Regions from separate parts of the Homo sapiens genome. Here regions 1 and 3 are each linked to region 2. Evidence: fine-mapped expression QTL. A gene starts in region 2. Each other region holds a variant in brackets. All regions are shown on one strand. Distances are from middle to middle.

Evidence for each region. PIP is the estimated chance that this variant, and not a neighbour inherited with it, causes the effect. A credible set is the group of variants that fine-mapping cannot tell apart.
Region 1: its variant is the best candidate, but not a certain one, in a credible set for the expression of SPTLC3 in blood mononuclear cells (TOPMed, PIP 0.52).
Region 3: its variant is the best candidate, but not a certain one, in a credible set for the expression of SPTLC3 in whole blood (TOPMed, PIP 0.66).

The regions. Positions count from the first base shown.
Region 1 is chr20:12,939,210-12,947,401 of GRCh38, forward strand. LINC01722 (long intergenic non-protein coding RNA 1722) reads right to left here. Exons shown (of 12, transcript NR_109868.1): 3 at 5,935-5,983; 4 at 1,610-1,727. It overlaps LOC105372535 (a long non-coding RNA gene), which reads left to right. Exons shown (of 5, transcript XR_937274.3): 5 at 1,306-1,695. Among named protein-coding and RNA genes, the nearest start is that of LINC01723, 7.0 kb to the right of the region's middle. The variant C/A (reference allele first, on the strand shown) is at 4,263.
Region 2 is chr20:13,004,957-13,013,148 of GRCh38, forward strand. SPTLC3 (serine palmitoyltransferase long chain base subunit 3) reads left to right here and starts at 4,016. Exons shown (of 12, transcript NM_018327.4): 1 at 4,016-4,428. The coding sequence starts at 4,312.
Region 3 is chr20:12,972,336-12,980,527 of GRCh38, forward strand. No RefSeq gene overlaps it. Among named protein-coding and RNA genes, the nearest start is that of LINC01722, 24 kb to the left of the region's middle. The variant A/G (reference allele first, on the strand shown) is at 4,328.

The DNA of each region.
Region 1 (8,192 bases), 66 kb before region 2:
TTCTGAGGTCTGCTCCTGAGACTTAAAGCACTCCAACATTATAACAGAAGACTATGGGAGTTATGCCAACAACCATGGATGAAAACATGTTTTATATATAATATATATATTATATATAATTATATATTATGTATTATTATATATAATTATATATTATATATATTTTATATATACTCGCAAGAGGTTAATTCAGAAAATTGCTACTGTGGTTGCTACTTTTTGTCCTTTAACAACCAATTTAAAGTAAAATTTTGACTGAAATAGCAATTGATTTTTGAGAAATGTCAGCAATCGCAATGATAATAATTTTTTAGCCATTATCCCAAAGGAAACGAGTGATGTTTTCAAAATGTACTTCAATCCTTCAGCAATAATCAGATAAATAAATTTCCTGTAAAATTATAATTAAAAGTAAATGATACTTTTAATTTTTATGGATAAATAATATTTGTACATATTTATGAGATTCATGTGATATTTTGTTACATGCATACAATATATAATGGTCAAGACAGGGTATTTAGGGCAACTGCTACCTTGAGTATGTGTCATGTTCTGTGTTTATCATTTGAAATCTTCTTGCTATTTTGAAAGACAATACACTGTTGTTAACTATAATCACTCTACTATGATATTGAACAGTATAATTTATTCCTTTATCTAACTGTATGTTTGTACCCATTAACTAACCTCTGTCCATCTCCCGCACCCTTGCCATACACACTCTTTTCATCTTCTTGTATCTATTATTCTCTTCTCTACCTCCAGGAGATTAACATTTTTAGCTCCCACACATATGTGATGACTTGTAATATTTGTCTTTCTGTGCCTGGCTTTTTTCACTTATGTTAATGAACTCCAGTTCCATTCATGCTGCTGCAAATGACACGATTTCCTTATTTTTATTGCTGGATATTATTCCATTGTGTGTATACGCTGCATTTTTATCCATTGGTTTATTGACGAACACTTAGGTTGATTCCATATCTTTGCTATTGTTAGTAGTGCTACGATAAACATGGGAGTGCAGATATCTTTTTGAAATATTGATTTTGTTTTCTTTATATAAATACCCAGTAGTGGTATTTTTGAATCATATGGTAGTTCTATTTTTTGATTTTACTAATTTATATTCCCACCGGTAGTGTGTAAAAGTTCCCTTTTCTCCACATCCTCACCAGCATCTGTTATTTTTTGTCTTTTTAATAATAGTCATTCTAACTTAGGTAAGAGGATATCTAAATTATCTTTCAATGAAAGGAATGAGGGATACATTAATATTAGGCATTGATCTTCTTTTGACAGAAAAACATCAAAATGTTGTACAAATTTGTAAGGATTTGATAATAAATTTTGGCAGATGTCCAATATCAAGATCACCAACCACTTCATTAATAATTGTTGTTAAGTCATGGAACTTGTCTGCAGAAATTGTATTCTTCCAAGCTTCTAACTGAGGATTTTGCCCTTCAACCTTATCTGCTGTGAAAAGACATGTTTTTTTTTGCAAAGCAATATTAAGATAATTGAAATATCCAAAATACTAGACAAATGAGAAAGATTCGTTGTCCAATTTCATCTTAAAGTCAATATCAAATTGGTTGCTTACCTTGGAAACACTGAGATTGTTCTATAGTTCAACAGTTCTCCACCAAACTTTTACCCTCAATAAAGATGTACTTCCACATACATTAACAGTTGTTTTTAGTCAGCTTTCACATTATTGCCTATAAAAAAATTAAAGTTATTACCCTTATGGAATGATTACATTTTACAATTTCTCTAAGCATAATGTTTAGTTCAACAAGATTTTTTGCTTTTCTATATATAACAAAAATTTCTCAATGAAGCAAACATTACATTGATTTATAATCTATCGCAAGCTTCTTAATCTGACTAATTATTTCAGAACATGCCCCTACTGTGCTCAACAATTACATAGTTCCTGCCATTTGTGACTCATCATGTGAATTTGACCTGTTCTGTAACTCTTTCAATAAAGCAAGTCCACTTGCTTTGGCACAGTCAAATTGCACTAAAAGTGTTGAAACACTTACTCTCAACAACTGTCTTAATCCTCTCCCAGGACAGTAGTTGAATATTCACCATGCAGCAATGGTCCACAGACCACCACTTGAATTCCACTGAATAGGCATTGTTTTCTCCCCATCAACTGACAGGGAATTCCTAAAAGTGATGTTTAGCTTATTTTCTGTTTGCAAAGTCATACTATGGCACACTACATTTAGATTCATGCAACAAATATTTATTAGAATTAGAAATATTTAATAGAATTAAACAATGAGGCTATATCATTAGATACATGTTAAGTAGTGATCTTCCATGTCCAAAAAGTCTTTTCACACACTTGTCTTTCTTTGGGTTCAAATCAAGATAAAAAGTTTGTGTGTGTGTGTATGTGTGCTTTGTTTGTTTGGAGACAGAGTCTCGCACTGTTGCCCAGGCTGGAGTGCAGTGGTGCAATCTTGGCTCACTGCAAACTCCACTTCCCAGGTTCAAGTGATTCTTGTTGCCTCAGCCTCCCAAGTAGCGGGGATTGCAGAAGCCTGTAATCCACCACGCCTGGCTAATGTTTTGTGTTTTTTTTTGTTTTTTTTTTTTTTTTTTTGTATTTTTAGTAGAGATGGGGTTTCATTATGTTGGCCAGGCTGGTCTCAAACTGCTGACCTCATGATCCGCCCACTTCGGCCTACCAAAGTGCTGGGATTACAGGTGTGAGACACCGCGCCCGGCCGTGTGTGTGTTTTAAAATATTATTTTGAGTATGTCTTTTCTTGGTGGGGAAACTCAGCAGCAGAGGGCTGAGTTCAATAAAGGCTCCAATCAAAACATGATATACTCATTGATTCCCTCAAAGTTTACTCCCTTTGTGATTTATTTATTCCAATTTCTCACATTTTGTTTCTGCCTTTTTAGTTTAGCTCTTCCTCTAGACCACTCCAAGAGCATAGGCCTTGCTGGCATACTACTGTCTTTTTTCTTAAAAAATATATAGAGGGATCCTGTTAGATTAGTGTTCAGCAACTACTGCAGGCACGACATATCTGGCCCTGTACATTTTATGAAAATGAACTTACTGGAACACTGCTGTGCCTACTCATTTGTGTACTGTCTACGAAAGCTTTCATGCTACAACTTCCAAGTCCAGTGGTTGACACAGGAACCATATGACCTGCAAAACCAAGTATATTTACTATCTGACCCTTTACAGAAAGTCATGGAACCCAGAACTGGATGATCCATGGCAACTTCCATATTCTAGTTTTTCAAAATCCTTTTCTACTGCCATTCTTACTAAGGAGAATTTCAGCTGATAGCGGCAAACTAACAAGTAAATGTTTACCATGACTGAAGAGAGCTTCCTAAGGCAACCTTCCACCCCAGAAGCCTCATTTGTGGTTATGGGGCATGACCATAGTGCTGGCAGACCCCAGTCACTCAATAGATACAACATTCATTTATTCATGATTTTCTTTAAAAAATACGTTACACTAAAGGAACATGATTAAAAAAAAAAAAACACTACAGACTAATATCCCTGATTAACATAGATGCAAAAATCCTTAACAAAATACTAGCTAACCCATACAACAACATATCAAAAAGATAATCTACCATGATTAACTGGGTTTCATACCAGGGATGCAGGGATGGTTCAACACACACAGGCCAATAAATGAGATACACCACATAAACAGAATTAAAAACAAAAATCACATTATTATCTCAATAGACACAGATGTATTTGACAAAATACAGCATCCCTTTATGATTAAAACCCTCAGCAAAATCAGCATAGAAGGGGAATACTTTAATGGAATAAAAGGCATGTATAACAAACCCTCAATCAACATAATATTGAATGGGGAAAAGTTGAAAGCATTCCCCCTGAGAACTGGAGCAAGACAAGGAGGCCCATTCTCACCACTTCTATTCAGCGTAGTACTGGAAGTTCTAGCCAGAGCACTCAGACAAGAGAAGGAAATAAAGGACATCTAAATGGGTAAAGAGGAAGTCAAACTCTCACTGTTTGCTGATTATATGATCATATACCTAGAAAACCCTAAAGGCTCCCCCCAAACTTCCTAGAACTGATGAATGAATTTAGCAAAGTTTCAGGATACAAAATTAATGTACACAAATCCGTAGCTCTGCTATACACCATCAGCAACAAAGCTGAGAATCTAATCAAGAACTAAACCTCTTTTACAATAGCTGTAAAAAAAATAAATCAATAAAAC[C/A]TTTAGGAACATACCCAACCAAGAAGGTGAAAGTATCCACAGAAAAAAACTACAAAACACTGCTGAAAGAAATCATAGACGACAAAAACAAATGGAAAAACATCCCATGCTTATGTATGGGCAGAATCAATATTGAGAAAATGACCATACTGGCAATGCAATCTACAAACTCAGTGCAATTCCCATCAAAATACCACCATCATTCCTCACAGAACTAGAAAAAACTATCCTAAATTTTATATGGAAACAATAAAGAGCTCACATAGCCAAAGCAAGATTAAGTAAAAAGAACAAATCTGGAGGCATCACATTACCTGATATCAAACTATACTATAAGGCCATAGTCACCAACATACCATGGTACTGATATAAAACTAGGCACATAGACCAATGGAACAGAATAGAGAACCCAGAATTAAACCCAAATACTTACAGCCAACTGATTTTAACAAGGCAAACAAAGACATAAAGTGGGGAAAGGACATCCTATTCAACAAATGATGCTGGGATAATTGGCAAGCCACACGTAGGAGAAAGAAACTGGATCATCAGCTCTTGCCTTATACAAAAATCAACTCAAGATGGATCAAGAACTTAAATCTAAGACCTGAAACTATAATAATTCTAGCAGACAATATCAAAAAAACTCTTCTAGACATTGGCTTAGTCAAGGATTTCATGACCAAGAACCAAAAACAAATGCAATATAAACAAAAATAAATAGCTGGAACTTAATTAAACTAAAGAGCTTTTGCACAGCCAAAGGTACAGTCAGCAGAGTGAACAGAAAACTGACAGAGTAGGAAAAATATTCACAATCAATACATCTGACAAAGGACTAATATCCAGAATCTAAAATGAACTCAAACAAATTGGCAAGAAAAAAACAAACAATCCCATCAAAAAGTGGGCTAAGGATAGGGATAGATAATTCTCAAAAGAAGATATTCAAATGGCCAACAAACATATGAAAAAAATGCTCAACATCACTAATGATCTCGGAAATGCAAATCAAACCCACAATGTGACACCACTTCACTCCTGCAAGAATGGCCACAATCAAAAAACAGTAGATGCTGGCGTGGATGCAATGAAAAGGGAACACTTCTATACTGCTGGTGGGAATAAAAACTAGTACAATCACTATGGAAAACAGTACGGAGATTTCTTAAGCAACTAAAATCGTAACTACCATTCGATCCAGCTATCCCACCACTGGGTATCTACCCAGAAGAAAATAAGTCATTATATGAAAAAGATACTTGCACATACATGTTTATAGCAGCACAATTCGCAACTGCAAAATTGTGGAACCAACCCAAATGCCCATCAATCAATGAGCAGATAAAGAAACTGTGGTGTATTTATATATGTATATGATGAAGTACTACTCAGCCATAAAAACGAATGAATTAATAGCATTTTCAGCAACCTGGAAGAGATTGGAGACTATTATTCTAAGTGAAGTAACTCAGGAATGGAAAACCAAACATCAGATATCCTCACTCATAAGTGGGAGCTAAGCTATGAGGATGCAAAGGCAGAAAAATAATGCAATGGACTTTGTGAACTCGGGAGAAAATGATGGGAAGGGGATGAAAGATAAAAGACCACAAATTGGGTTCCGTGTATACTGCTCAGGAGATGGGTGCATTAAAACCTCACAAATCACCATTAAAGAACTTGCTCATGTAATCCAATACCACCTGTTCCCCAACAACCTGTGGAAATAAAAAAAATTAATTAAAAATATATCCATTATTGTCATTTCATTTAGTTGAATACAGTTAATTCATACAACTTTGTATTTTAAGCAAGTTATGCAATCAGTGGTAACTTTTTAATAAGTTTATTTATAAACTTGCTTGTTTATAAGTCTAATATAGGAAATTTATAAAATTGAAACCATGAGAAATTTTATCCTCTTGCTGAACAAACAAAAATAGTTCGTGGCATTATGTGTATATTGTAAACTGATTTTTTAAAACCAGTTATATCAAAAACTCTTCTCATGTTGAACCCAAAGCCATTACTTCTTAGCTCATAACTATAGAAACAGAAGCTTACTATGTAAATATGCTTTTAACTGTCCACTAAAAGAAACATGACTTAATTACTTTTTCTTTAAGACAGGGTCTCACTCTGTCACCCAGGCTGGAGAATAACTTTCTGCTTCTTTCTTTTCATATTAAACAACTTAATTAGATATGATTTGCATACCATAAAATATATCCTCTGCAAGTGTACAATTCGAATTGTTTGGGTAAATTTATAGTTGTGCAAGCACCACCACAGTCCCGTTTTGGTACATTTTCATAACCCCCCAAATAGGTCCTTCACATCCATTTGCAGTCAATCCTGTCTTCCATCCCCAGCCTTAGTTAGACACACTGATCTGCTTTGTCTCTGTAAACCTGCCTTTTCTAGACATTGCATATAAATGCAATTATATAATACATAGGCTATTTTCCTCTGGCTGATTTCATTTAGCACCATATTTTTGAGGTTCATCCATATTTTAGCACATATGTTAGTAGTGTGCTTTTAATTATGGAACAGTATTCCATGGTATGGATATACCACATTTATTTCACCATTGATGGGTATTTGAATTGCTTCCAGTTAGACCTATTATGAATATCAATTCTAGAAACATTCACAGATGACTTTGTATCAACATGTTTTCATTTTTCTTAAACAGATTCCTGGGTTGCATGGCAGGTTTAACTTTTTAAGAAACTTCCAAACTTATTTCCAGTGCAGCTGCACCATTTTATACTAGTACCAGCAATGTGTGGGGATTCCAGTTTCTCTGCATCTTCACCAACGCTTGCTTCTGTCTGTCTTACTATAGCCATTTTAGTGGTACGCAGTAGTATATCACTGAGGTTTCAATCTGAATTGTCTAATGGCTCATAATATTATGATAATGTAGATCATTCATAGGCCCATAAGCCATTCTTATATCTTCCTTGGTGAAATATCTACCAAAATACTTTTGAACACTTTTGAATTGGTTTCTTATTGTTGAGTTTTAAGTGTTCTTTATATATTCTGGATTCAGGTCTATTATCCAATATACGATTTGCAAATGGTTTCTTCCTGTCTGTGGATTGTGTTTTTGTTTTCTTGAAAATAGTTTTTCTTCTTTCTCTCCTCTTTTCTCTCTCACTACGCATATATAGTTTCTATCAGCGTTGTCATACAGATTTCTAAAGTTCTGTTCACTTTTTAAAAATCAAAACTATGCAAATTTGTGCCCAAAGAAATTTCTTCTAATAGAAAAGCAACACACAAAACCCTAAACAAGCAGAAGGACCACAGAAGCTGGTGTTAGGACAGAAAACAAATTCACTGAGGGGAAAAAAAACAAAGCTGATCAGACAAACAAAAGTACCAGAGGACCTCATAATTAGGAAAATAAACAAAACACAGAAATGCTTAAATAAAATATTGGAGCTTAGTTGTACATTAACTTAGCAATCAGCCAAGGACAATTTGATACCTTAATATGTAAACACACAAGAGATCACAAATGTACACACTCTTACTGAGTCAAGGCTTCCAGCCCAAGACAGTAAATGTTTCATATGAATCCTGGTGAACCTGCATTTCTGTCAATTCCTTACAGGCAAAGACCCTAAAGAAAACAATGCAATATTAATAAGCAAGTATTAGAAAAGACTTATAGGATTTTGGCTTATGTAAAGTTTTTCAGAGATAATTCATAAAGCAAAGTTTTGCTTTGTATTGGATGCTATTAGGAAGTGGGGATAATTCCATGATTGGTTATCTTGATAAATCTTAAACAAAAAAAGCAATGGGATGGTGAGGCTAAAGCTGTGATTGTTAAACAAATGTCAGTTACTCATATTCTGACCAGGAGAGGAATATGTTTGGCCATTTTTTGCAGTTTTAGCAGTTTGTATG
Region 2 (8,192 bases):
TTTCTCATTCAAAATATGTGGTGTTTTTATGATATTATAACTCAAAGTTAATGACTTTTCTTCCCCAACTAAATTGTAGACACCCTCTTCTTATATAAATTCCACAAATCTTCCCTATGGGAGACACAAGAGTACACATTTTCTGTCTGTCTCTAGAATTTATGAGGTTTTACCCAAATGAATGTATTAAGTTTTTCTACATGATATCTCTCTCAATCTTCAGAACAGTCTAATATTGATCATTCAAAAGATCCAATTTGATCTCTGATCAATAAGATCTGATGGGCTAATATGGACTTGGTTGCCCTAATTTGGGTTCCCACAAACAGACTCTGAGACAAGGATTTAGGTGCAAGTAGTTTATTGGGGGGTATTTTCAGGAAGCATGGATAAGTAAAACCAGGAAGGGAGGAAAACTTAATAATGGGTGTTTTTATAAGAGGGTTACTACTGAGGGCAACAGAGCCACAGTCCCATTGGGATCTCTCCAGAGGCTGTGAACATGCCTCAGAATTGTCCCATAAAGAAGAAAATAACATGGGGTGTTTATGCACCAACTTCTGTCCCTTGTTGGCTGAGAGTTGCTCTCAAGGATGTGAATTTCCCAGCACACCTGGCCCACACTGCAGAAGCAGAGAATACCCCATGGTCAGAGAACCTGCTTGGGCATAGAAACACAGAAAACAGCTGACACCGTGTATCAGGGACCTCCAAGCTAAGTCAAAAGGATATGAATGAGGGACTGACTGTGTCAGTATGATCTATTTCAGGGCAAAGATATGTGATGTTAAATATGTGCTATGCATGGATTTTCCAATCACAACAGTGTGCAAAACCCAAAAGTGTGAAAACTAAAATTAACTTGATCTTGATTAAGAGTTATAATTTCCACCTGATATCAGATAAATTGACATGATCACTTTCTGGGTTTTCTCAGATAATTTTCATGACTTATTGGTCAGTTCAAATTTAATATTAACTCACATGCGGCTGGCCTTCTTAGGTCATCACGTTTACAACCTATTCATGGGGAAATCTATGGAAATGAATGGTCTCTACGATGAGAATTTTTCCAGATTGAACTCTTCGGGAAATTTAAGTACTTCCACGTAGACTTATTAGTAGATATTGACATGTCATTAGTCATTTGTAAAAAAATTTAATATATTGCAAATTTTTAAACATCAAAAAGCAAATAAAGCATTTTTATTCATTATTTGGCCAATCCAATGAAATCTCCCAAATAATAACAGATTCTGTTATTTCTTTTCTTGGTGGTTGATGGTTCTCAAGTCAACAGCTGAAGGAGAGGTGTCATGGTGTAAGGAAAACGGCACTCACTTAGACCCAGACATTCTTGAGTTCATGACCCACTTCTACCACATATTATTCTGTGGCTTTGGAAAAGTCACTTAACCTGTTGAAAATTTAGTTTTGCATGAGCATCACTCTCCATTACATGGGTAAAACTTGAGTCACTGAGAATGAACAGATTTCTGTACACTGTACAATTCTGACAGTTCATTCTGCTCATATCCTCCCATTTTTGCCAACTCTCTATCCCCAAGTTGTTCCAAGAGCGTTTTCACAACACATTGCCAAGCCTCTGTCCTTCCCTTTCTTGCCTATCCTCATTCTGTTATCTCCCTTTTTGGCTGCTTCATTAAGAGAGGAGCTGAGAATCTGGCATCTGGGCAAAACCATTACTTTGGAGAACACCACAAGGCCATTGCTAATTTTATCATCTTTGCCTTTAATGTACTAGTGGGAAGATTTATTTCTACCTTTAATAGTAAGATATCCTAAGTAGAAGGCATGTGGGTACTGCTGAGTCTTAGTTCTGTGAAGGTGGAGACTGTGTATGTTTTATTCCTTGTGAGAACCAAGGACTCAGCAAATACAGAGTACTTATTCAAACATTTTCTGAGGTTACTAGTTGATCCAAAATGTATTTAGTTGTTCAGAGATGCCAAATCTTGCTCAATATTTAGTCTGTGTTTTAGTATTGCTCCAAACCTTAAACCTAAACCTACCACTGACTTCAACAGAACTCTTCGCTTATTTTAACTGGAGATGGTATGAAGCAATGAGTCACCACTGACTATACATACCAGCAGTGCCTGATGCCAAATGGTTGGTGTGTTAATATAATTTTGTACACACAACAATGCACACATTCCAATACGGTAAGTAAAATAGAAAAGTTTCAAGAGTGAGAGCACGTAGTAGATATTTCTCAGAAATCTATGTGTGATTACCTAACCTTAGCAATTGCAATTAGGGGAAGGAAACGGAGAAAGCAGAATTCAGCTGTGTTTTAAGATTTATTTTATATATACCTTTTGTCCCTTGTAAAAAGAAAATTTGAAAAAGAAGAAGAAAAAGAAGAGGAGGGTGGGGGAGGAAAGGGAAAAGGACAAATGTGAAAAGAGGAAAGAGATGGAGAAGAAGAAAAGAAGAAAGAAAAGAGACATCTAATGTTAAAAAAGTTTTATTTCAAAATCTTTATTAAAAAAATGCTTTGCACTGAGCAATAGAGCTCAGGGAAAATAACGCCCTCTCTTCAACTTGTCTTTCTAAGTAACGTGAGGCAGTTGGGCCAACAATAGTGCTCCCCTCTACCTCTTCATCTCTCCATTTCCTAAATCTTAGAAGAAAATAAACCTACAAGAGTTTAGCCCCCAAATCTCAGTGAAACAGCCATGGAAGGGAGAGACCAGTGAAAATCTACTTCTACTTTGATGATAAAGGTTGAGAGAAATGCGATAAAATTTTTGAACTTGAGACACAAACTGGGCTGAACACACTTGGTATTAACTCCGTCTTTCACCTTGGCCTCAGGCCTTATCTTATTCCTCCAGCATTCCTTGGGATGGTAAAGGCAGGTACCCTCATATGCAAGTCATAGTTAGGAGAAGCGTTAGCATGTCCACCTCCAAAAGCTACATTAATCTGGAGTAGAACTGAACCCTGTCCAAGGGAGCTGAGTTACAGGACATGAGGCTCTGGAAACAGGGGCCATTTCTTTCTTTTTGTTTGTGTGTGTGTGTTTGATTGTTTGTTTTTGTCTACTGCCCCAATAAATTGGTTTCTTTTCTTAGAGTCTGATGCTAAAGAAGTCTCGACTCAGGAAAACCACAAGGGTGGACTTGGGAAGACTCAACAGGTTGTAATGACTCTCCAGCAAATCATGTCACCATGCCATTTGATGATGGTAGGAAGAAACAAAGCCTTGAAGATTCATGCATTGAGAGAATAAGAGTTAGTGAGTAAACCAGATGTGTTTCAGGACTGGGACCCTGCAGTCATCAACCACCTCACACCTGCGTCAGTAACAAACCCAAGCTACAGCATGATTTTTGTTCTACCTCAGCAGATATTTTATAGATGGAAAAACTGAGGCATAAAGTGGGTAAATACCTCCCCCAAGGTCACGAGATAAAGATAACGCAGTCATCAAATATTCTGTCTCCTCAACATCTGTCTTACTGGAATTCTTGATGGATTGGTACCCCCTTATTATAGTACTGATTTTAACATAGGTTGGTTTTGAATACTGGGTTTTTAAAAATCTTTTCAAATCATTTGTAAATTATGGAAATGTATACATCACATGAAACTTACCATTTTAATCATTTTTAAGTGCACAGTTTAGTTTAAGTACATTCACATTGTTGTGCACTGATCCATCACTATACCTTTTTCATCTGCTCCAGCTCAAACTCTGTACCCATTAAACAATAACTTCCCTTTGCCTCATCCCTCCAGGCCCTGGCAACCACCTCTGAATGCTATTTTATAGCAAAAAGAAATATTAACTTTTGAGCTTGGTTTACAACCAAAAACCACAATTACATGCAGGAGAGAGGGGGTGGGAAAAAGAGGTTAACTCAGAACTCAGTTACTTAGAAGACTCTGTGAGTGTGCTGTGTGTGTGTGTCTTTAAAAGACTCTCCACCTCCCAGCCCGCCTCCTCACACTTTGCCACTGGGTTGTTCAGTCCCCAGGTTCCCTCAGTCCCCAGAAGGAGCCAGCATGGACAATCTCCTTTACAGTTTCGGAAGCAGGTTTGTTGCCATGGAGTTCACATTTTGACGGGAGTTGAGAAGTATAAAGGTAACCATTTGTTTTAGTTTCAACGATCTGACAAAAAGATAGGCTGTTGCTCTTCTTCTGGAAAAGCCTGATTGGTAAGATTCCTTTAAGGGCTCAGCCCCAAAGAGCTTTATCCCATCCCCTCGCAGACTGAAAACTAAAGCCTGCAGAGACCTCTGAAGGAAAACCTGTCCCGGGCTCTGTCACTTCACACCCATGGCTAACCCTGGAGGTGGTGCTGTTTGCAACGGGAAACTTCACAATCACAAGAAACAGAGCAATGGCTCACAAAGCAGAAACTGCACAAAGAATGGAATAGTGAAGGAAGCCCAGGTAAGAGGCACTCTCCCCTACTCTTCTCTGAATTACCTGAACGTTTCAATATTTCTCTGTGAAGATATTTGAGGCTGTCCTAACTTAGAGTTCATCTTATGAAGGGTTTTTACATGTTTTGACTGTTGACTCTGTTAATAGAAAGTGCTTGGCTACCAAAAAGTTTAGGTGTGGATTAAGGAGAAAATGTCTTCTGTATGCAAAAGAGGATACACACAGACTCACACAGCTTCAGGCTCCCTAAAATACAAATGTACCTACTAGACTTTTGTCTCAAGCATTTTGCGGGGAGGGAAGAATTAAGAAAGTTCCAACTCTTTGCATATATTTTTGTCCAAGAGACCTGCTACAACCGTCATGCTTCAGAAGAAAAAGAGGAAGTGAAAGTACATTTTGCTGACATTATGTGGTGGAGATGGCATTCTTCCCAGGTCCATGAGAAATGCATCACTGTTTGAAAGGCGAGTTATTATTGGTGTGTAGTGGAGCATTGTTTTAGCTCACTACTTGATTTGAGGCCACAGTATTTCTTTGAAATGTGACGTCACAGACATTCTTTTCCAAAACACTTCAGAAAGCAGGGCTGATTGTGACACACTGCTCTCAGAAAACAGAACAGCATCTTTAAAACAAACTTGTATTTTCCAACTTGACACTTTTTTTTTTTTTCACTCTTATTGCACCGGGATGTTTGCAGAGTGTCCTAGGCAGGAGGAACTCGAGGAAAGTTGTCAGCTTGTTTTAAGAGAGAGCCTGGGTCTGTGAGGTCCTTATGTAAGGCAGTTCCCCACTCCCCACAGGACATCCCGTGTCACTCTGCTCTGAGCAGCAGAAGTGAGCTCATCTGCCTGAGGAGCAAGCCCAAGTAGTCAAACAGGTAGCCTCCTGTTTGGAAAGAGAAGTGGCACAGGGAGCCCCATGCAATCTTCCATCATTTGATCATCCAGAGAGCAAGTATCCACCCACAGGAAAGGCAGATTGTTCTAAGATCACAGGACAGGTGGGTCTGGCTGGGGCCAGTCCTCCTCTCAGTGAATTACATTCGTGTGTGCAATTGGAAGAGGCTAAAGGAGCTCTAGAGCCTGAGTTGTGTGTAAACAGGCTGTGGTCCCCAAAAGCATTCCCCTCTTAACAAAAGGCACTGTCCAACGCTGGGAGGTGTCTATCAGAAACCTCAGAACTGGCCTGTCCCACCTGAGGATCTGAAACCTGGAGCAATGTGAAGAGAAGGTGCTCAACTCCTGTCAGTTGTATGAAGGAAATTGCAGTAATATCCACCACTTATGCATCACTAAATATCAATTCAGGCCACTACTCAAGACGATCCTTGCCTCTGGAATGCCTGTAACTCACAAGCTATTCATCTACTTACCCTTGTGATTATTCTGACCCTGAGGGATCTCATCTGGGAAGAGATTCCTTCTTAACTTTTCTCCCTTTTATTTATTTTATCTTGGTTTTATAATCACATTCGAGGTATGAGATTAGAAACTTAGACAGTTATAACCACTCCTAAGTAAGGATAAAACCCAGGATTCTAAAGGTTCATTATGAAGTGCAGCTGCAAGACTGTAAATATCCTTGGACACTGAGGCTTCCCTAAGAACGGTCGAAAACATCAGGGCTGCTGTTGCCTTCCTGAAGGGCCATCCAGAGCCTCTTGTCTCAGACATATTTAGGTGTCACTAAGCTACAATTGGCTTTCATTGAGAGCCTCAATTATGGCTTAAAAAATATTTTTCAGAAAAACAAACGAACAAAAAAAACCCGGCTGAGATCATAGTGTAATAGGGCAAACGAGGGCTTATTGTCCCCTCCATGATGGGAACGAAGTTGTCTTTACTCTCAAGTTCCTTTGCCACCAGTTTTGATCCTTGGGACCCTTTAACAAACTAGGCCTAGACCAAAAGCCTTGCCTGTGGATAGAAGCAGTCTGCAAAGGCTTACAGAATCCTAGGCTGCTGGTCTCCCAAACACGTTCTGCCTGGCCTAACGTCTTCTGCCGCAGCATCTAAGATCCTACCAGCCCCTCCAATGATCCTCCCACCCTTTCTCTTCCCACTTATTTGCAACCACACAGCAACACAGTTATCTCTTTTATACATTAGGGGACCCTACAAGATTCTGTTGACAAAGGGTTCCCTGGCATAACAAACATATGAAAATTACTATTAGGCGGTGCTCATGAGTCCTCCTTCCCCCTGGTCCAGCGTAGGCTGCCATCCCTGCTCCAGCCTGCAGCAGGCTTGCTGCCCCAGTCTCAAGGCTGGCAAGGACCAGAGCCTTTCCATTCTTAGAAACCTTCTAGAGTTCCTTTCTGGAGCTTTTATGGAGCCTGACTATTTTTCCTGTTTTTTTTTTTTCTTTAAACCTCATATGTCCTGAGAATGCACAAAAACTGGTTTTCATCACTGACTAAGTCCATTTATTTGTTTATTCCCAACATGGCCTCCTACCTTTTACTTGTAACAGGACACTATCATACTAGAGGATTTGTTCTCCCTCTTCATGAGCATATCCACACTACAGACAGATGGGTGCTTAAAGTCTTAATCTATAAACTTGATATTTCTTATAATTTTTATTGAATTAAAATTCTTCCTAATGAATAGGAATTTCCTATTCCTTACTTAATTCTATATAATTACTTTGCAACTATTATCCACATAATTGCTTTTTAATTCCCAGCAATTATTTTTGACCTGACCATAAACTTTTATTTGGAAAACCAAAACCTAGGAAGGTAGACCTTGTGTCTCCATTGCATTTTCCCAGAAGTAGTTTCTTAAGAGGATAGAGTCTGCATTTTCTTCTCTTAAACGAAACCTGCAGGATGAAAAAAAAATTGTAAAGTTTTCCTAATCATCCCTTTCCTGGAAAACAAAAATGTTTGGGGATTAGAGTTACTCTAATTCAAGGTTTATTGAGTTCTTGACCTGAATGTTGTAATATTACCAGGTATAGGTTATGAGCCCTAACAGGTGGTTGCTTTTTTTTCACCAATACTTATTAAGCATCTGTTATTCTTAGGACCTATAAAGATAAATAAGAAGTTTACAATTTATCTGTTAGGAGAAAGCTTATATCAACATTAAAATAATCACATCAAAGTTAAATGCTAGTGCAAGGACAAGAGCTGCCATAAAGCAGACATAACTTGAGTACAAATGAGTGGTATAGATACTAGTACTAGAAGTTGGAGAAGAGCAAAAATAATAATAAATATCAATATTCTGCTATGTATCAGGAAGGGCTAAGCACTTCAGGCAGGCATCTCCTGTACCTTCAAAACAGCCCCATGAAGTGGTAGTATACTGTCCATTATACAGATGGGGAAAGATAAATCACTAAGGAACTTCTGAAGAATCACAATCAGCATGGCCAGGATTTGAGCCCAAATCCAAGTTGCTCCAAAGCCAGTTCCTTTTTCAGTATGTTCTAGGAAATCACAAGTTGGGGTGGTCAGTGACAGCTTCTCAGAGCAGAGAAGACTCAAATTGAACCTTGAGACATTATAATTGCAGAAAAAATAGGGAGCTTATTCCTGAGGGGCAAATGAGGAAAAGACAGGAAAGGAACTCCAGAGATGAATGTAGGAGTTGCTAGTAAAGGGCATAAGAAAGGTCATGAAGCATTCCAGGAAGCTGTGAGGCACAATAGGTCATGTGACTTTTGAGAGACTTTTCTCAATTCAGTGAGCCTTCATCGCAGACAGTGAGAAGCAGTGCTGTGGCTGAGGTGGTGCTCAGCAGATGCTGGAAGAA
Region 3 (8,192 bases), 33 kb before region 2:
TACTGCTGCAGTGAAATATGCATGCATGTGTCTTTATAATGGAACAATTTATATTCCTCTGGGTATATACCCAATAATGAGATTGCTTGGCCGAATAGTGGTTCTGGTTTTAGCCCTTTGAGGAATTGCCACACTGCTTTCCACAATGGTTGGACCAATTTACACTTCCACCAACAGTGTGTAAGCATTTCCTTTTCTCTGCAACCTCCTCAGCATCTGTTATTTTTTGACTTTTTAATAATAGCCATTTTGCCTAGTGTGAGATGGTATCTCACTGTGGTTTTTTTTCTTTACTTCAATAGGTTTTTGGGGGACAAGTAGTGTTTGGTTACATAACTAAGTTTCTTTAGTGGTGATTTCTGAGATTTTGGTGCATCCATTACCCGAGCAGTGTACACTGTATCCAATGTGTAGTCTTTTATCCCTCACCCCCTCCCACCTTGTCCCCCAAGTCCCCAAAGTCTGTTGTATCATTCTTACGTGTTTGCAACCTCATAGCTTAGCTTCCACTTATGATTGAGAATATCTGATGTTTGGTTTTCCATTCCTGAGTTACTGCACTTAAAATAATGGTTTCCAGTTTCATCCAGGTTGCTGTGAATGCCATTATTTTGTTCAATTTTATGTCTGAGTAGTATTCCATGGTATATAGATAGGTACAGATATAGACATATCACAATTTCTTTATCCAATCATTGATTGATGGGCATTTGGGCTGGTTTTACATTTTTGCAATTGGGAATTGTGCTGCTATAAACATGCATGAGCAAATATCTTTTTCATATAATGACTCATTTTCCTTTGTGTAGATACCCTGTAGTGGGATTGCTGGTTCAAATGGTAACTCTGCTTTTTAGTTCTTTAAGGAATATTTACACTGTTTTCCATAGTGTTTGTACTAGTTTACATTCCCATCAGCAGTGTAAAAGTGTTCCTTTTTCACCACATTCCCTCCAACATCTATTATTTTTTGATTTTTTTATTATGGCCATTCTTGCAGGAATAAGGTGATATCGCATTGTGGTTTTGATTTGCATTTCCCTGATCATTAGTGATATTGAGCATTTTTCATATGTTTGTTGGGCACTTGCATATCTTCTTCTGAGAATTATCTATTCATGTCCTTAGCCCACTTTTTGATGGGATTGTTTGTTTTATTCTTGCTTATTTGTTTGAGTCCCTTGTAGATTCTGGATATTAGTCCTTTGTGGGATGTATAGATTGGGAAGATCTTCTCACATTCTGTGGGTTGTCTGTTTACTCTGCTGATTGTTTCTTTTGTTGTGCAGAAGTTTTTTAGTTCAATTAAGTCCAACTATTTATCTTTGTTTTTGTTGCATTTGCTTTGGGGTTCTTGGTCATGAAGTCTTTGAATAAGCCAATGTCCAGAAGGGTGTTTCCAATGTTATCTTCTAGAATTTTTATGGTTTAAGGTCTTAGATTTAAGTCTTTCATCCATCTTGAGTTGATCTTTATATCCCATGAGAGATGAGGATCCAGTTTCATTCTTCTACATGTGGCTTGTCAAGTATCTCAGTACCATTCGTTGACTAGGGTGTCCTTCCCCTACTTCATGTTTATATTTGCTTTGTCAAAGATGAGTTGGTTGTAAGTATTTGCCTTTATTTCTGGGTTATCTATTATGTTTCATTGGTCTATGTGCCTATTATACCAGTACCATGCTGTTTTGGTGACTATGGTCTTACAGTATAGTTTGAAGTCAGGTAATGTGATGACTCCAGATTTGTTCTTTTTGCTTAGTCTTGCTTTGGCTATGCAGGCTCCTTTTTGGTGCCATGTGAATTTTAGAATTTTTTTTTCCTAGTTCTGTGAAGAATGATGGTGGTATTTTGATGGGAATTGCATTGAATTTATAGATTGCTACTGGCAATATGGTCATTTTCACAATATTGATTCTATTCATCCATGACCATGGGATATATTTCCATTTGTTTGTGTTATCTAAAATTTCTTTCAAAAGTATGTTGTAGTTTTCCTTGTAGAGGTCTTTCACCTCCTTGGTTAGGTATATTCCTAAGTATTTTTTTTCTGCAGCTATTGTAAAGGGGGTTGAGTTATTGATTTGATTCTCAGCTTGGTCGCTGTCAGTGTATAGAAGAGCTACTGATTTATGTACATTAATTTTGTATCATGAAGCCTGCTGAATTAATTTATCAGTTCTAGGGGCTTTTGGAAGGAGCCTTTAGGGTTTTCTAGGTATATGATCATATCATCAGCAAACAGTGACAGTTTGATTTCCTCTTTACTGGTTGGATGCCCTTTCTTTCTCTTGTCTGATTGCTCTTGCTAGGACTTCCAGTAATATGTTGAATTGAAGCGGTGAGAGTGGGCATCCTTGTCTTGTCCGAGTTCTCAGGGGGTATGCTTTCAACTTTTCCCCATTCAGTATTATGTTGGCTGTGAGTCTGTCATAGATGGCTTTTATTACATTAAGGTATGCCCCTTCTATGCCGATTTTGCTGAGGGTTTTAATCATAGAGCAATGCTGGATTTTCTCAAATGCTTTTGCTGTGTCTATTGAGATGATCTTGTGATTTTAGTTTTTAATTCTGTTTATGTGGTATATCACATTTATTGGCTGTGTATGTTGAACATCTCTGCATCCCGGGTATGAAACCCACTTGATCATGGTGGATTATCTTTTTGGATATGCTGTTGGAGTCGGTTAGCTATTATTTTGTTAAGGATTCTTGCATCTGTACTCAACAGGTATATTAGTCTGTAGTTTTCTTTTTTTGTTATGTTCTTTCAGTATAATGTATTTTTTGAAGGAAAACATGAATAAACCAATGTTGTATCTACTGAAGTCATTATTGGTGCTCTCTCTCACTTGCAACCTGCCTTCACCTAAGGTCATACGAAGCTTCTAGGGTTCCCTCCTCAGTTTCCTCCTTCTAGGGTTCCCTATCAGATTCAGATTCACCACTTTTTTTGTACCAAACTTATTTTAATGTTCCCTACAATGTTGAAATAAAATTCATAGATCACATGACCTATCTAGACACAAAATCTTTAAAACCATCAATATATTAAACTATAATACAAATAAAACATAAGACAAATGTCTAATAAAAATAAATGTATATAAATTTGCAAATAATCAAGTATGATTAAATTTGAAGATATAATGCAATGATATGAGGGTTGTATCTGTACATATAATGCCACAGCTACAAAGGCAGATGAGTCCAGGTGTGTAGTAGTGGTGGCTCAATTACCATAAGTATTGCTGCCTTAATGTTATTTTCTAAAATGGTAAAATAATCTGGATAACATTCCAAACAAAACAAGTAGAATTTCCCATGATTCACATAATGATTTATTTCTGAAAAATTTAAGGTATATGAAAATTATGCCAAAAAATGCTTTTTTTTCATTTGTTATACAGAATTAGATTCCAAACCAGAAAGATTATAAGCAAGCTTTTTATCCTCATGAATGCCTGGGGCCACTGAAAATCTGTGGGACACTGATCTGTGCATTGGAGGTGTTTACCATCTTCAGTGCACAGAGCTAAATGGCTCAATGCCAGGAGCACACCCTTCCTAATTAACCAAAATTGCCTTCAAAAGTTTCAAAACTTTCTGGGAGGCCATACTCGGCTTCCTGAAAACTTAAATTTTGAGCACACTTGAAGAGGCCCTTCTAGTCAACATTGGTCACAAGTGAGATGCTCCTGGACCAAAGCCATCCTGCTTCCTGGAGCCTGACACCGCTGAGATTTCAGGCCTTAGTTAGGAGCTGGGAGGCTTTACCAAGGTTGATAACCAACCCCAACCTAGCCTTCTCAGATGGACCTCATGACCATACCCCATGAAGCACTGGCTGCTTCCCAGAATGTAGCCACCCAGAGGATGTAGGTCCCTTTCCAGTAAAGAAAAAGTTTACCCTTCTCTCTTCCTTAAAGGCATCTTCCCTTCCCCATTATACTCACTCCAGCCACGGACATCACAATCTCTTCAAATTAAGCCAGCAGTTCTCAGAACGTGATCCAAGAAGTCTTGAGGTCCCTGAGACCCTCTCAGAGAGTCTGAGAGATCAAAAATATTGATATTATAATGTTAGGCACCATTTGCCTTTTTTATTCTTTCAGGAGTGTACAGTGGAGTTTTCCAGAGACTACATAATGTGATACCAGGATAGAATGAATGAACACAGAGCAGACCTGAGAATCCAGCTGTCTTCTTTAAGCTATTAAAGAGATTCATAAAACAAACACAAAGCCACTGATAGATAAAAACCTGTGTGAATATATCCCCTTGGGATCCTCAGTTACTTCTAACAGTGTCAAGGGGTCCTGAGGCCA[A/G]AAAGTTTGAGAACCGCTGGTTTAGACTTTCTCAAAAGACAGAAAAGTATTTACTTTCAACAGCTACTATTTCCACAGACCCACTAGCCCCTGAAGCTGGGAAACTAAGATTCAGAGCTGATTCCTTTCCTACAGTGATGCGAAGAGAGGGGCTGGCAGACAGAGGGAAAAAAACAAACAAACCAAAAATGGAAACAACAAAGCTCAGACTTTCACCTCAGTAGATATCCTCGGCTCACATACTTATCAGGCAATGAACATGACAGGCTGGGAGGAGGGTAGGGTGTGTATTTCATTTTCCACACCCAGATAATAGCCATTTAAAAATAAGTGGCCACCACTGGTAATAAACAGCACTCGCCATTCCCACTTACAACTCACTCGGCTTATTCATTCCTTCAGTTAAGAGCTATTGAGGGCCTGCTATGAGCAGGGAAGAAATGGAGTGTTATCCTCACCAACTAGCTTACAGCTAGGAAGAGACCTAAAGGCATAGAGAAAATGAACTCTAATAAAAGTTGAAGGTGAAACGGCCTAACACAAAGGCAAAAATTCAGTTCTATAGGGATTCTGAAGCTTGATTTTTCTGTTTGGAGCAGTGAGCATCATAGCAAGTTACAATTTGAGCCGAGACTCTGGAGAAATAGGCTGCAGAGATTAGACATAGTAGGGAAGGACTTGATGGTGAAGAATAGCATGAAAAAAGCAGAGAGGCAAGAACTGGGGAACAGGTTAGGAAACAGTCAGCTATAGCTAGTTTGGCTGGAATGCAGGGTGTGTGGAATTTACATATGGGAGATTGGGAAATAAAATTAGAGATGTACGTAAGGATCAGATCACAGAGAAGTTTCACTGTCAGGCTAAGGTTGTGACTAGGAAACCATAAGAAGACTTTGAGCTATTACCTTACAAGAGCTGTGCCTTAGAACAGTGAGCCTTGGTGTACAGTGTAGGATCAATTAAAGTAGGAGAAACTGGAAAAGTATAAAATAAAAGACAGGAAGAAGAACCAGGAAATAACATTTATCATGGGATGCATTATAACAGCAAACATTGGCAAGGGTATAGAACAACTATGACTTTTGTACACCGCTGCTTGGAGTATAAAGTTGAAAAGTCACTTCTCAGCATTTTGGCAATTTCCTGCAATGTTTAACTTGACCTTATGACCCAGCAATTTCACTAAGTGTTTGCCCAAAACACAAAAAAACCTAAGTCCACAGAGAAACTTGTACAATAATATGTCCAGCAACTGTGTTCAAAATATCTAAAAACTGGAAATAACCCAAATGTCCATCAAAAAATATTAAATAAATTATAGAATATTCATATAATAGAATATTTAACAATAAAAAGAATGAACTATGATACACCACAACATGGTTGAGTATCAAAAATGTGTTAAGTAAATAAAGAGTATGTGCTCTGTGATTTCACTTACCGTGTTTGAAATCTAAATTCAGAGAAAGTTAATCTTTTATAGAAATTATAGAAATCAAATAGTGGCTGCCTGGGGAGAGATGAGAAGGGAAGGGTGGGGAATGGACTGGAAGGAGCATGAGGGAACTCCCTGGAGGAATACAAATGCTTTGCATATTATTTGGGGTAGTAGTACACATATTATACAATTGTCTGAAACTCACAATCTGAACATGTGATACCTGTGCGTCTTATTTTGTAATAGTTCTGTCTTAGTTAGAAAAAATTCTAGGTCACTGAAAATGTAGCATTCACTCACCCTTCCTGAAAATAAAACTTACAACTAAAAACACTTATTTCTATTATCTGTGGAATCAATCAAAATTAATACAATGGCTGAAATCGTGGTTGGAAAAAAGCTTATTAGTGAGCAATAAAAAAAACTATAGGTGAAAATAAATGTGCTTAGATTTTTAAATCAATTTACTAATTTCTGTAAAAGACAATTAATGTGATAACATTAATACTTAAATTGTGGCCAAAAATTCTGAAAACAGTGGTGAATTTAAAGAAAAGGACATTATTTTAGTCTTGCTGCAGACAAAGCCAATATTACTCTCAAATACCATATTTTTATATTTAAAGTATTTATTGTAGACTCTAGTGAATGTCTTTTTGATTAAGCTCATGGTTCATAAAATTGGCTTTGAAAATAAAACTGATGTGTTTGCACTTATTTCTCACACTGCAAAGTAATATAGTGCTCACTGAAACGTGTCTTTCTATCTATTGAGTAGATAAAGCTCAGGTTTAAAAAAAGGTAGCATATAGCTTTATGCAATTAGCTTAGGAAGCAAAATTAAATTACAATTCATCATCTCTCACTCAGGTAAGCTCTATGTATATACTTAAGGTTACCTGTTTGGAAGTCAGGATTGTATGTTATGTTTAAAAACAAGATAGAGATCTGTGGAGTTTGTCATTCTAGTCACTTGCTTGGGAAGTAAACATGAGTTAAAAGTAGTTGGAAGTCCAAGAGGGAAAATATATCCTTGCACTGTGTGTAACTCATGTACCTCTCTCTAGAGGGAAAGCTAAGCTGCTACCTCTGGAGGGTGTTTTCCAGCGATAAGCAAATACGCAGTGATAAGATCTATGTAGAAATGGGATATTGTGTAGAAATGGGATATTGTGTAGAAAGTTGATTGAGTGGAGAGGGTCATGCAGTGTAATCTCCTGAAATACACTATAATTATTTGGATCTTTCCAGGTTCCCACTTTGGCCACTTAATTCTCTGAACCTCTACTACATGAAGAGACTAGAACTTGATTAGAAAAAAATGGAATGACTCTTAATGAGCAAGTGGATGAATAAATTGTGGTAAATCCCTACAAGTGACTATTAGAAAGCGAATGAGTAGAGTTAATTAATTCCATATTGACATTGTGCACTGTTTATGATACATTATGTAAGAAAAAAAAGCAAGATTCAGTATAATGTTCATTATAATAATATATTTTGGCAAAAACAAACCACAAGGACAAAAATTCCAATACAGATCTAAAAACAGTCCAACAAACAAATGTCATACTAGAAGAACAAATAATATTGTTTGGATTTAAGAGGAAAAATTTGACAGATCTGTTTATAATGCACACAGCAACTGCTATAAGGAAACAGCTCAGGAATGCATAGACTATGAAAGAAAAACCAGGAAAGATGAGTTAGCATGGATAGATGGATGCATGGATGGATGCATGGATGGATGCATGGATGGATGGATGGATGGATGGATGGATACATGGATGGATGCATGGATGGATGGATGGAAACATGAATGGATGGATGGATGGACGGACGGATACATGAATGAATGGATGGATGAATGGGTGGATGGATGGATGGATGGGTGGATGGATGGATGGATGGATGGATGGATGGATGGATGGATAGACGTAAATGAGGAAAAAATAAAGGGAAGAAGGAAAATTATTTTTCTTCAACAATCCAAAGACACTGTTCCTTTATTTTCACAGTATCTTATGCTTTTAATAATAATTCTATTGCTGAAATAACTTTTTTTCCTCTTCATCCTTAGTGTTCTCATATTTCATAATCAGGATCTAGATATGAGTCTTTTCTATTTAAAAAAACTTTTCTTTCAGCTCTGAAAAATATTTTTATATTGCTTCTTAGATAATTTAGAACCCTCAACTCCCCGTGTTCTTTCTTTCTGGCATAACTACTTGCTCGCTGTTGTACCTTCTTGATATATCCTTTATGTCTCTTATTATTTCTTTACAACTTTCTGTCTTGTTTTCTTGTTGTTCTACATTTTAAGAATTTCTTCACTTTTTGTCTCTTTTACTTAAAATGATTCTTTCATACACTTTATTCCATTTTATAGCATCCTGTTCTTGCCTTATGGATACAATAGCTCTGTAA